Linked DNA regions of Homo sapiens. The protein of the gene in region 3 interacts with the protein of the main gene of each other region in a pairwise test. Each region holds a gene or a part of one and is shown on either strand. Other genes may lie near its edges.

What was found.
Region 1: the proteins of KRTAP10-3 (region 3) and SDC3 interact in a two-hybrid assay, tested with the Homo sapiens proteins (3 studies listed by BioGRID).
Region 2: the proteins of KRTAP10-3 (region 3) and WT1 interact in a two-hybrid assay, tested with the Homo sapiens proteins (2 studies listed by BioGRID and IntAct).

The regions. Positions count from the first base shown.
Region 1 is NC_000001.11:30,881,022-30,884,765, forward strand, and holds part of SDC3 (syndecan-3), read right to left. Parts: intron 1-3,744. UniProt on the Homo sapiens protein: Cell surface proteoglycan that may bear heparan sulfate. May have a role in the organization of cell shape by affecting the actin cytoskeleton, possibly by transferring signals from the cell surface in a sugar-dependent mechanism.
Region 2 is NC_000011.10:32,428,870-32,432,613, reverse strand, and holds part of WT1 (Wilms tumor protein), read left to right. Parts: intron 1-1,800; exon of another isoform or gene 1,801-2,074; coding exon of another isoform or gene 2,075-2,084; intron 2,085-3,744. UniProt on the Homo sapiens protein: Transcription factor that plays an important role in cellular development and cell survival. Recognizes and binds to the DNA sequence 5'-GCG(T/G)GGGCG-3'. Regulates the expression of numerous target genes, including EPO.
Region 3 is NC_000021.9:44,557,191-44,560,866, forward strand, and holds KRTAP10-3 (keratin-associated protein 10-3), read right to left. Parts: upstream 1,606-3,676; 5' UTR 1,526-1,605; coding exon 860-1,525; 3' UTR 600-859; downstream 1-599. UniProt on the Homo sapiens protein: In the hair cortex, hair keratin intermediate filaments are embedded in an interfilamentous matrix, consisting of hair keratin-associated proteins (KRTAP), which are essential for the formation of a rigid and resistant hair shaft through their extensive disulfide bond cross-linking with abundant cysteine residues of hair keratins.

The DNA.
Region 1 (3,744 bases), on a different chromosome or scaffold from region 3:
CGCATGCACACACACACACACACACACACACACGACAGCCCAACATCCTCATGCATATATATTCTTCTGCATGTACTATGCACCCCAATGGATACACACACACACTATTAAGTGCAATGTTTGCCCACACCAATCTGTATACTCACCACAGCCTATAGGCAATACAGCCCAGCCCACACCAGCACACACTCACCCATCTACTTCACCCCTAGCTGCCTGTACACATGCCCTAGGGTACTCACAGACACACACACACACTCCTCTCCTCACCACACACCCCACGGATGCCCCCGAGAAACCTCAGCACATTCTCCTGACCCCACGCACCACACTCACCTCACCAAGGCCCACAACACGGACCCACCGCCATGGCCACGTATGTTCCCTAAACACACATCGCTCCTAGACATCACCCTCGGCAGGTGCATCCTCTGACTCAGACATGAACCTCACAACTCGGATACAACCTTTCCTCTCGGCTGCACCCCCCACACACAGCGAGCGTGCCCGGTGGAAGCACTGAACCTTCTGCTTCCGGCCACCACTGATCTCGGGAGGGGACACCCAGCAGAGGCTCCGCAAGCGGCCCATGAAGGCCTGAGCATCAGGTCCCAGGGGAGCCGCTGAGCGTTCCCAGGGCACTCTAGAGACCTCTGCCTGCTGCTGCTGAGGGCCTGCCCCAGGCCAGGTGCTGGGAGCATGTTATTTATGCAGCCTCCTTTAAGCATCACAACTGCCCAGGGTTTTATCATCCCCATTCCACAGATGCAGGAACTGAGGCAGGGGTTAGAATCCAGGCATGAGGCCTCTGTCTCTGAAACCCTTGTCCTGGACATTCCTGAGCCACCCCCAGACCCATTGCTTGTCCAGGGCTAAATTCATACATCTGTGCCCCGCAGCTGCCCTCACCCCCTGCATGACATCAACTCGGCAATGCCCACAGCTGTCCATGCCCACCCAACATCCACACCCACGCGCCAGCACACGATGGTGATAAGACTATGCAGCTCATAGCATTGCAGGAGAAGGGGCTGAGCACGGGACCCAACACACCAGGCACTCCCAACACCCTGCCTCCACATGTGCGCAGCCTACTTGTCCCTCCCTGAACCTGCCCCAGCAGACATACATCCCGCCTCACATGCCATTAACAGGTCCACAATACCTGCATCTCAGTTCCCTCCACACACACATGCGCGCAAACACGCACTTTCCTTCCGGGTACACACAAGTGCACACACACATCGGGATGAAATGTGGCACCCTTCCTAGTGGACTGATGCCCCCTGCTTCCATTTTTCCTCACAGTCCCCTAGTCACCACACCTTCCTGAAGTAACCCACAGCCTCACTCCACAGAGGCACCTCAGGCTCCCAGCCCAGAAGGGACCAGGCCCAGCAGTGACCCACAGGCCCCCTCACTCCACATCCACTCCCACCGATCCTCTCCTAGAGTTTTAGAGCAGCAGCTGGGGAGGCTCCCCTGGGCCAGGGGCAAGGAGGTGCCACCTCCCAGGTTGCCCAGCCCCCTCCCTCCCAGGAGCACCCCATCAGGGCTGTGATGGGTGAGGGTCCAAATGAGCTGGATGTCAGCTAAGTCTCCTCACTTTCACGGCTACCTCTACCCACCCACTCATCACTCACTCTGAGTGCAGGGGACACGTTCAGGAAGGCCAGTGCATCCCTCCCACCCCATCCTCTCTCAGAGCCCACTCCAGAATTTGGGGTCTCTCGTGCCCAGCCCCACACCACCATGAGCCTTCCTAGAGAAACCGGTCAGCACAGAGGCAAAGCATAATGAACCAGCTCCTCTTTACTACCCGGTTGGCTGTCAGGCAAGCCATTTAATCTCAGCACCTCAGTTTTCTCATCTGTAAAATGGAGATGATGAGAAGACTACGCAGCTCATAGCATTGCTGTGGGAAGGGGCTAAGCACAGGACCCGACACCAAGTGAAAAATGAATAAATCAGTGTAGCCACGATTGCTGTTAGTTTATGTTAAAATTTCTATTATTATTTCGAAGCCTTTATCTCATGTAAGCCTCAACCTCCTCATGAGGGAAGCCAAATTGGGATGACTACACCCAGGCAGATGAGACGATTAATGCCCGGAGAGGTTAAGTGGCATTGCCAAGGCCACACAGCAGGGGAGAGTGCAGAGAGAGACAAAAAGAGAGAGGTTGGATGAAGGGGGAGAAAGGGCAAGTTACAGAAACAGACACAAGCACACAAATTAGGTCAGCAGGCTGGGGGCCAGGAGCCCGGCACCCCTGTGCAGCGCTAATCATGTTGCAAAAAGCCAAGAATAAAATCGAGTGTAATTAGTTCTGCCCGAGCTTCCTTCCCCTAATTAGCCAGACTCAGGCCTCACTTTCCTGGTGACCAGAGGCGACATGAGCAAGGGGTGGGGGCCCAGCTTTAGGTTCTGACAGTCTTGGATTCAAATTCAGCTCTGCTTACTTGCTGGGTGACTTTGGATGTGTTACTTAACCTCTCTGAGCCTGTTTGGTTAAATGAGGCCAACAATGATACTTCATAGGGCAGTTGTGAGAATCAAGTGAGATCATGCCTGCACACAGTCGGAGCCGTATAAGGCTTTGTCTATATTCCTACAGCCTGCACTTCCCACCTCAGGCTGCAACTTCAAGGCTACACTGGGCCTGAGGGATCACTGAGTTCAACTCTCCCCTTTTACCGATGTGGAAACTGAGGCACAGAGAGGGGAAAGCCTTGCTTATCACGAAAGGAGGGGGCGGGGTTAGTCTGCCACGAAGCATTCAGAGAGGTAAAGTGATTTGCCCAAAGACACACAGCGACGTAACTACTAGCTCCTCGAGGCAGGGAGGGAGGGTGTCTCAGCATGGCCCTCTGGATCCCTGCAGGCTCCGTCCCCAAAAAGCCCTCAGTCCTGTGAGAACTCAGTGCCCCTCACGCTCACCAGATCCACCCCGGAGACCCAGAGCATCACCGCAGGAATGTGGGCTGGGGCCAAGCTCCGGGCAGCAAGACAGCCAAGGGGGCTGCACAATTGGGAGCCGGGACCAGGAGGGGGATGTCTCAGTCCCCACCCCCACCCAGCCACAGCTGCCCTGGCCAGGAAGCCGGCAGTCCCACACCCACTTGTGGCTGGAGATGAGGGGCACGAGGACTGCACCTGCTGGGGAAGGGGCTATGGAGCCCAAGTCCCAGAGAGCAGAAGCCCGGGGAGGAGTGGAATGGGGAGGGCAGAGAAGGCCAAGCTGAAACACCACAGACCCCCCCCAAGAAAAATCCACCAAGCCCAGACACACACCCTCCCACTCGCCCCAACTCACACACTCAAGCCTCTCACAAACCAAACCTATCCCCACCCCCTACTCCCATCTACAAAGGCAGCTCAGAGGGCAGGAAATGTTCCCTTTGGGCCTGTCCCATCCCAGTCAACTCCTCTGCAAAGATATCATGGCAGCAGAGCCCTCCCTACCCCAAGCCTGTATCTCTCCTGTCACCTCCAGTCTGCCCTCTACCCAGCCCTGTGTTCCCACCATCCCCCCAGGATGCCCTTTTTCCCACTGTGGCACCTGCCTCCACCCACATCCCCACCCCAGCCCCAACAGGAGAGCAGGTAGCAGCCCTGGCTCAGGCGCCCACAGCCTCCAAGACCGTGGACAAATCCTCTTCCCCCTTCTCTGCCTTTCCTTTGCCCCATTTGCAAAATGGAAAACCAAGCATGGTGGTCTAAGGGCCTTTCTGATTCTGACACTC
Region 2 (3,744 bases), on a different chromosome or scaffold from region 3:
TTCTTCTCCACCCTGGAGAAAAAGCCCAATGGAGAGAGGGCCCTAGATTCAAGTCATATAGCCTGGAAGCACCATCTCCAGGTTTAAGTTTTGTCTTGCAGTGAAAACAGATGGGTCCATCTTACCCAGCCCTTGAGGCTCATTGGGCAGCTTGGATGTGAGAAGCGCTCCGGCTGCTATCCTGGAGTGGGCAAGGGTGGCCCTCGAGATTCTGGGTTTATTCTTTGGATTTCCAGGGTTCCTGCTGCTTCCCCAGGAATGCAGGGCCTGGCCCAAGACTTGGGCTGTGAGAGGCAAGGGCATCAACTCTCAAAAATGTGGAAATGGCCATCAGAGCGCCAAGGCCAAACCCCAGGGGAGAGGAATCAAGGCCGTCTCTGGATCCCTAGGGCAGTCTAGCCATGGTGCACAGGCAGGGGCAATTGTTGGTACCCACTCACAACCGCCCAAAACTTCACAAGCATGTTCATATTTTAAATTCTTAAATATTATATCTTGCATCCTAATCTTGTAAACATTAATTTAGCAAACATCAATCGCCTACTTGGTCAGGCACTGGGTTCTGAATATTAATTAAGACAATGGCCTCGAGAACCTTTGCAAGAAGCTCACCAGCTAATCCTGGAGAGGCCCCTTGTTTTGGATGAGGAAATCCAGGTTCTATGAGATTAGGTGGCAGAGGTGGGATTTGAACCCAGACCATGCTAGGGTGTTTCTACTCCTTTTCCAGGGATCTTGGCCCCACCGTTGAGATGGATTTCTTCTGGCCTGCGGGAGGGGCACCAAACTCTTAGTCCATGTGTGGGGGTTGACGGGTTTGTGAGGGCAGATGTGGGGTGAGGACTTGAGTAGCCCCAGACTAGATGCAAGGCTTAAGGAGGAGGGGAAAAAAGCTTGCTTGGGCCGGACGCGGTGGCTCGAGGCGGTTGGATCACCTGAGGTCAGGAGTTTGAGACCAGCCTGGCCAACACGGTGAAACCCTGTCTCTACTGAAAATACAAAAAAAAAAATTGGCCGGGCTTGGTGACGGGCGCCTATAATCCCAGCTACTCGGGAGGCTGAGGCACAAGAATCGTTTGAACCCGGGAGGCTGAGGTTGAAGTGAGCTGAGATCGCGCCACTGCACTGCAGCCTGGGCGACAGAGCGAAACTCCGTCTCGGAAAAAAAAAAAAAAAAAAGAGGTTGCCTGCTAGTCCACTGATCCCGCAGCCCCGCAGGCTCGCAGAACCCTAAGGCATGATTAGGCCTGGGATCATCAGGCCACCCTAGGGTCAGGTGCGGAGGCCTGCGACGCCCGAGGGCCAAAGGCTCCCTCTTCCGGTCACACAGGAGAGGGTATTTTGTTGGGGGACAGGTTTTCCCCAATCACAGTGCAGCTGCAGTCATCGTTTTCAGCCTTCTGAGCACCTTCCTGGCTGAGCCTGCTGTCCATTTCACCCCTCAGCTCTCACGGCCCGGCCAGGCCAGGCGGTTCCCGGCTTCTCTGCAGCCGCCGGCGGGGGAGGAGGGCACAGAGCGCGTCTCGCCTCTTAGCGCACGGTCAAGGTTGCGCTCCCCTCCCGGGCCGGGACTAACCGTGGGAAAGGCGCTACCTTGGCCACTCGATTCTCTCCCTCCAAGGCCTGTACAAGGAGCCTTTGAACACGCTGCTCCTTCCAGCCGGCAGCTTTACCTCCCCTGGCCCCTGCCCCCGCACTCTCCGCGCCAGGCCAAGCGCTGGGCCCAGGGACAGCGCGCTCTAATCAAACCCGTGTCCGATAAGCTTCTAATTAAAAGAGACCTCCCTCCGCTCCGCAGGCGCTTTCACCACTGCCCCTCCCGGGGGGACCTGAAGGAGAGGGTTTGAGGCCGGTCTTTGCCCGCCGAGGTCTGCGTGTCCGGTCTGGGAGGAGGCCTAGGAGGGCTCGCGGGCCACGGGCATCCTTGGGCCCGAGTTCTGGGGTGCGGACGGACGTCTCGAGAGTGGGTGCCGCGACTCGGGACCCACGGCCCTCGCCGGGCACGGACAGTTGCGGAGCAGGGCTCTGAGGATTGTGCAGTGCCCTGGGTCCCTGCCTACTCCTGGGCTCAGGAATGGAGAAGGGTTCGTCTAGAGAAAACTTCTTCGTAGCTTCTATTTCGTCTCTCTCTCTCTCTCTCTCTCTCTCTCTCTCTCTCCCTCCCTCTCTCTCTCTCTCTCTGTGTCTGTCTCTCTTTCTCTCTCTCTCTTTTTAGTGTCCTTTCAGAAATTCGGCCTTCACTCCGGGCAATAGTGGGTGCCCTGAGCCAAATTTCGTTTGTAAGCTCATCTATAGGCCTCAAAGAAGGCCAGGCCTCAGGTTTCAAAAGGAAGTCTGTGGAAGCCCAAACGTGCTCGCCCATGCAGGAGAGCTAACGGGGCCGGGGGTTATCTTTGCCCACTTAGCAGGAGAGAAATGGAGGCCCTCGAGGTCATATGATAAAAGCTAGTGGCTTCTCAAATCCCCAGTGTGTGGTGCTGAGCAGTGTGTGAGACTTAAGCCTGGACCTGTACTATCCGGGAGTTAGGATTTGCCCCCTCCTTCCCTCCCTTGCACTCTGCCACACCACCCTCCAGGCTCATGCCTCTGTTGCCCCAGAGAAGCTTTTTTTTTTTCTTTTTCTTTTTTTTTTTTTCTGGGCGGGGGGTGGTGGTGTGTGTGCATGAGCGTCCGTGTGTGTTTCGAAAATGGAGGTAACGATGCCCTGGGTCCTGCTCATCGGCTGAGTCCTGCTTAAGTCTTTGGAGGCACTTTGGTCAAATAGTGCAAGAGTGGGAGAATGGGTGCTGTTTGACCCAATTTACTCCTGAGAATTTTGTGAAGTTTGGAGACCCAGGGCAGTCCTGGGCCAGGAGGATCTGAGGCTGCTGGGGTGGCCCTGCCAGGATCCCATAGGAGCAGCTCTCCTTAGCCATTGTGTCTGGACTTCAGGCCACAGACTCCGGAACTTGTAGAGGAATGAGACCCCATCCTTGGGTTCCGGGGCCAATGACGTATCTTTAGCCGAAGGATCCTTTTCCCCAGAGGCAGCAACAGCTTTCCAGAAGCTTGTGGGGTATAAGTTTAAAGCAATTTAATAACAAAAATTATAAAAGACTATGTTTTCCAACTGAGGCTCCACGCTCTTTTTCTCACTTTGGGGGGGGGGGGGAATGCTAGGATTTCCCTAGGGGGAAACTGAGGCAAAGGACCGAAGCACTACCATGGAGGGAAAGGGAGATACAGTGTCAGGCACACTCTAAAGGAAATTGGTTGTCCAGCCTGGGGAGTGAGGAAGTTGGCTCCTACAGCAGTGGTCAGGGTCGGACCCCTGGGCGCAAGGTGGGTCCCATAGGGGGGAGGAGGAGGAGAGCGCAGGGTCGCCATCTGAAGGCCCAACTGGAAGGGGCCCTTGTTTTCCCCCTCACCAGCTTTCCCTTGGGTGTCATGGTGTCAGGTCGGGTAGCCCCAGACAGATAACATTACTCGGTAATTACTCTTCCCATTTTTAAGACCAGGCCATTTAACTGGCTCCGAGTAATTAATGAAAGTTGGTGCGCGGGCCCCTGATTTACAGCTCGGAGTCAACGCGGGGTTAGCCCAGCAGATTCATTTCGCTTGCCCGCGCTGCTCCTGCGGAAGAGCTGCAGTTTATTTTTGGGGGGTGAACAACCTTCTCTGTCGATCAGGCAACGAGTTTTATACTTAATTTGCCAGGGGTTCGCTGCAGAAGCGGCAGAGACCGTAGAAGACTGCGGCATAAAT
Region 3 (3,676 bases):
GAGAGGGTTCCTCACATAAGGCAAAAGAAAACACACCTGTCTTAGAGGCCTCAAAAATGCCCACAAATACTTTCCAAGGACAAAGGTGGTTACTCAGCTGCAAACAGTGAAGCACACAAGGAAACGACACCATGAGCGAGAACTGGTGGAAATGACAGAAAGCTGAAATGGACCCACAGAGACTTCAGGCATTGGGATGACCGTGCACAGATATTTGAAATAAGAGATCAGCTCTAAAATGTCTTCCAGGAATGAGAAATATTTATTTTATTTAATAAGAGAGGGCTGGTGAGAAGATGATGAGTGGGGGTCAGACAGGCAGAGGAAGGAGAGAGGGGGAGGAGCTGAGCCCAGGGAGAGGCCGGGCCGGGTGGGTGTGGGGGATTCACAGAGAAGCACCCCCGGGGCCTGGAGACGCTGAGGCTGGCAGGAGAACCCCACAACAGCAGACCCCGCACAGCGGGAAGTCAGGACTGCCTCCGCCCCTGGTGCTGTCAGCCTGGATGCAGCTCAAGGCCAGAGTCCCGAAGCTCCCACCCCACGCGGCACGTTGAAGTTCTTCCCACAGGGTTTGCCAGATATGCAAAAAAGACCTCTGAGAGGGCACATTGGTGACTTTATTTGTTGACAGACTGATCACTCACATGGGGCAGGACACAGTGACCACCGGCTGGCCAGCATGGAGATGAGGGTGTGGGAGAGATGCATGCCTGGAGGGAATCGGCATGAAAGCTCAGCATTGCTGGCTGGAGGTGCAGTGGCTATGGGCAGAGGAGACTCAGACAGGGCTCAGGGCTGCAAGGATTTTCGGAAGTCAGAGATGGCCCTGGAACAACTCTGGAGAAACGGGACCTGCCCGTCAGCAGCTGGACTTCTGGCCTGAGGAGAGGCCGCAGCACGCGGAAGAGAGGCGGGAGCACGTGGGGCGGCAGAGGAGGGACACGCAGGAGGCCGGGCGGCAGCAGCTGGGCTGGCAGGTGGAGGCAGGGGCACAGCAGGAGGGGATGGGCACACAGCAGGTGGACCTGCACACGGGGCGGCAGAGGAGGGACACGGAGGAGGAGGGTCTGCAGCAGGAGGTGGTGCAGCAAGCCGGCTGGCGGCTAGACTGCTGGCAGCATGAAGAGGAAGCCCCAGAGCAGACGGGCACACAGCAGATGGGCTTGCAGCAGACAGGCTTGCAGCAGACGGGCACACAGCAGACTGGCTTGCAGCAGACAGGCACGCAGCAGGCCTGCTGGCAGGGGGAGGATGTGCAGCAAGCTGGCTGGCAGCTAGACTGCTGGCAGCACGAGGGCGTGCAGGAGCTGGTGCAGCCTGACTGGCAGGGGCTGGGCTCACAGGCCGCCTGGCAGCAGGGGCTGGACACACAGCTCACTGGGGTGCAGACCAGGGTCAGGCAGGGGGCCGGGGCGCAGCAGCTGGTGGCGCAGCAGGGGGGCTCACAGCAGCTCTCTGGGCAGGCGTCCACCTGCCAGGAGTCAGAGTAAGCGCTGGAGCAGACGGACATGGTAGACGTGGCCATGCTGGGGTGGGGAGGAGGTGAGCTGGGGGAGACGTGAGTGAGTGAGTGTGGGAGTGAGTGAGGGAGTGAGTGAGTGATCGTGCCAGGCCTCTGAGTGGTCGGAACCTTTATACCCCTCTGTGTTGATTGTGCTGCCCCTGCCTGGCTTCGAGAAGCCTTCCTCTTCCTTGTTGTTGTTGTAGGCACTGTTGTGTTAGTAGTGTTGGTTCATTGTTTGTGGATGTTCTGGTTTGTGAGGCTCCTGACTGGAGTTAGGGCTTCCCTAATGTGGGCTTGTCCACAGAGATAAACTAGTAGAAATATATTGATTGCATCAAAGCACACTGCAGAAGCAGGGACAGTGGCAGTTAGGAGATATTCTGGAATTGACAGCCCTCTGCTCCATCCCAGGAGGAGTTTGCACTTAAAAAAAGACTTCTACACCTAAGGAGGGATGAGGTTAGGAGAACCTCAGTTTCTGGGCCTTGAGGAAAGGGAGAGATGTGTTCTGCTGTGGACAAGTTTGAAGATGCTCAGTTGGCCTGGCCACACGGCGAGATCCACCCTGTGGGTTGACACTGCTGGTTGTCAGTGGGAACCATGGGGCATATTTCTGCTGGGGGTGAGCCCTGGGGCAGGTGTGAGGGAATAGTGTCTTCCTGGGCAGAGATTGGCTCGCAGAGGGGAGCAGGGAGGCAGCTGCAGGCCCAGCACAGTAGGGATGGAGATGAGGGGCAAGCACCTTTGTTTCATTTCACGTTGAACTGTTATGGGGCCTTCCCCCGGTGGTGTGCACAATAGTGTTCACACCTTCTCCTCTCACATCTCGGGCAACATCACCTGCAATGGTGTCCTTGGGAGCTCCAAGGTCTCTTCCCTTATGGGCCAGAAAGTCATCAGAATGTATTAGTTCTACTGTTGGCTCCTGGACATTGTCATAGTAAATGTACAAATAAAAGGGTCTGATTGCAGAGCCTTGTCTCACAAATACCTATACACCTGTGTGTATCAGCCCATGCCTGTGCCCGGGACCATACCTGTGCGCTAGTAAGCCCCCAAAGTTCTGATCATGGATCCCTCATCTCCTCACTCTATGATCGCTATTTTCTACTAAATCTTTGAAATGGCAAAGGCAGAGGCTCTGATGATGCTCTAGGCTGCAGGGCTTTCCAAAATTAGGCCAGGGGTCCACTGAGTGCTTGGTGGGGGCCCATAGGCTGCAGGGTTTGAAGCCTCTGACCTTTGATGAGTATGGCTAAGGGCTCTGTTGGAGGACTACCTGGCAAAGTCAGACTACAGTGGAAAAATATTATTTCATAGAAATAATAGCTGGACACAGACTGGCAAATTGGATGAAGAGTCATGACCCGTCAGTGTGCTGTATTCAGGAGACCCATCTCACTTGCAAAGACACACATAGGCTCAAAATAAAGGAATGGAGGAAAATGTACCAAGCAAATGGAAAGCAACGTAAGCAGGGGTTGCAATCCTAGTCTCTGATAAAACAGACTTTAAGCCAACAAAGATCAAAAAAGACAAAGAAGGGCATTACATAATGATAAAGGGATCAATTCAATGAGAAGAGCTAATTATCCTAAATATATATGCACCAAATATAAAAGCACCCAGTTTCATAAAACAAGCTCTTAGAGACCTACAAAGAGACTTAGACTCCCACACAATAATAGTGGGAAACTTTAACACCCTGCTGTCAATATTAGACAGATCAATGTGACAGAAAATTAACAAGGATATTCAGAACTTGAACTCAGCTCTGGATCAAATGGACCTAATAGACATCTGCAGAACTCTCCACCCCAAATCAACAGAAGATACATTCTTCTCAGTGTCACATGGCACTTATTCTAAAATTGACTTTATAATTGAAAGTAAAACACTCCTCAGCAAATGCAAAAGAACTGAAATCATAACAAAGTCTACCGGACCACAGTGCAATCAAATTAGATCTCAAGATTAAGAAACTCACTCAAAACCACACAACTACATGGAAATTGAACAACCTGCTCCTGAATGACTCCTGGGTAAGTAACGAAATTAAGGCAAAAATCAAGAAGTTATTTGAAACCAATGAGAACAAAGAGACAATGTCCCAGAATCTCTGGAACACAGCTAAAGCAGTGTTAACAGGGAAATTTATAGCACTAAATGTCC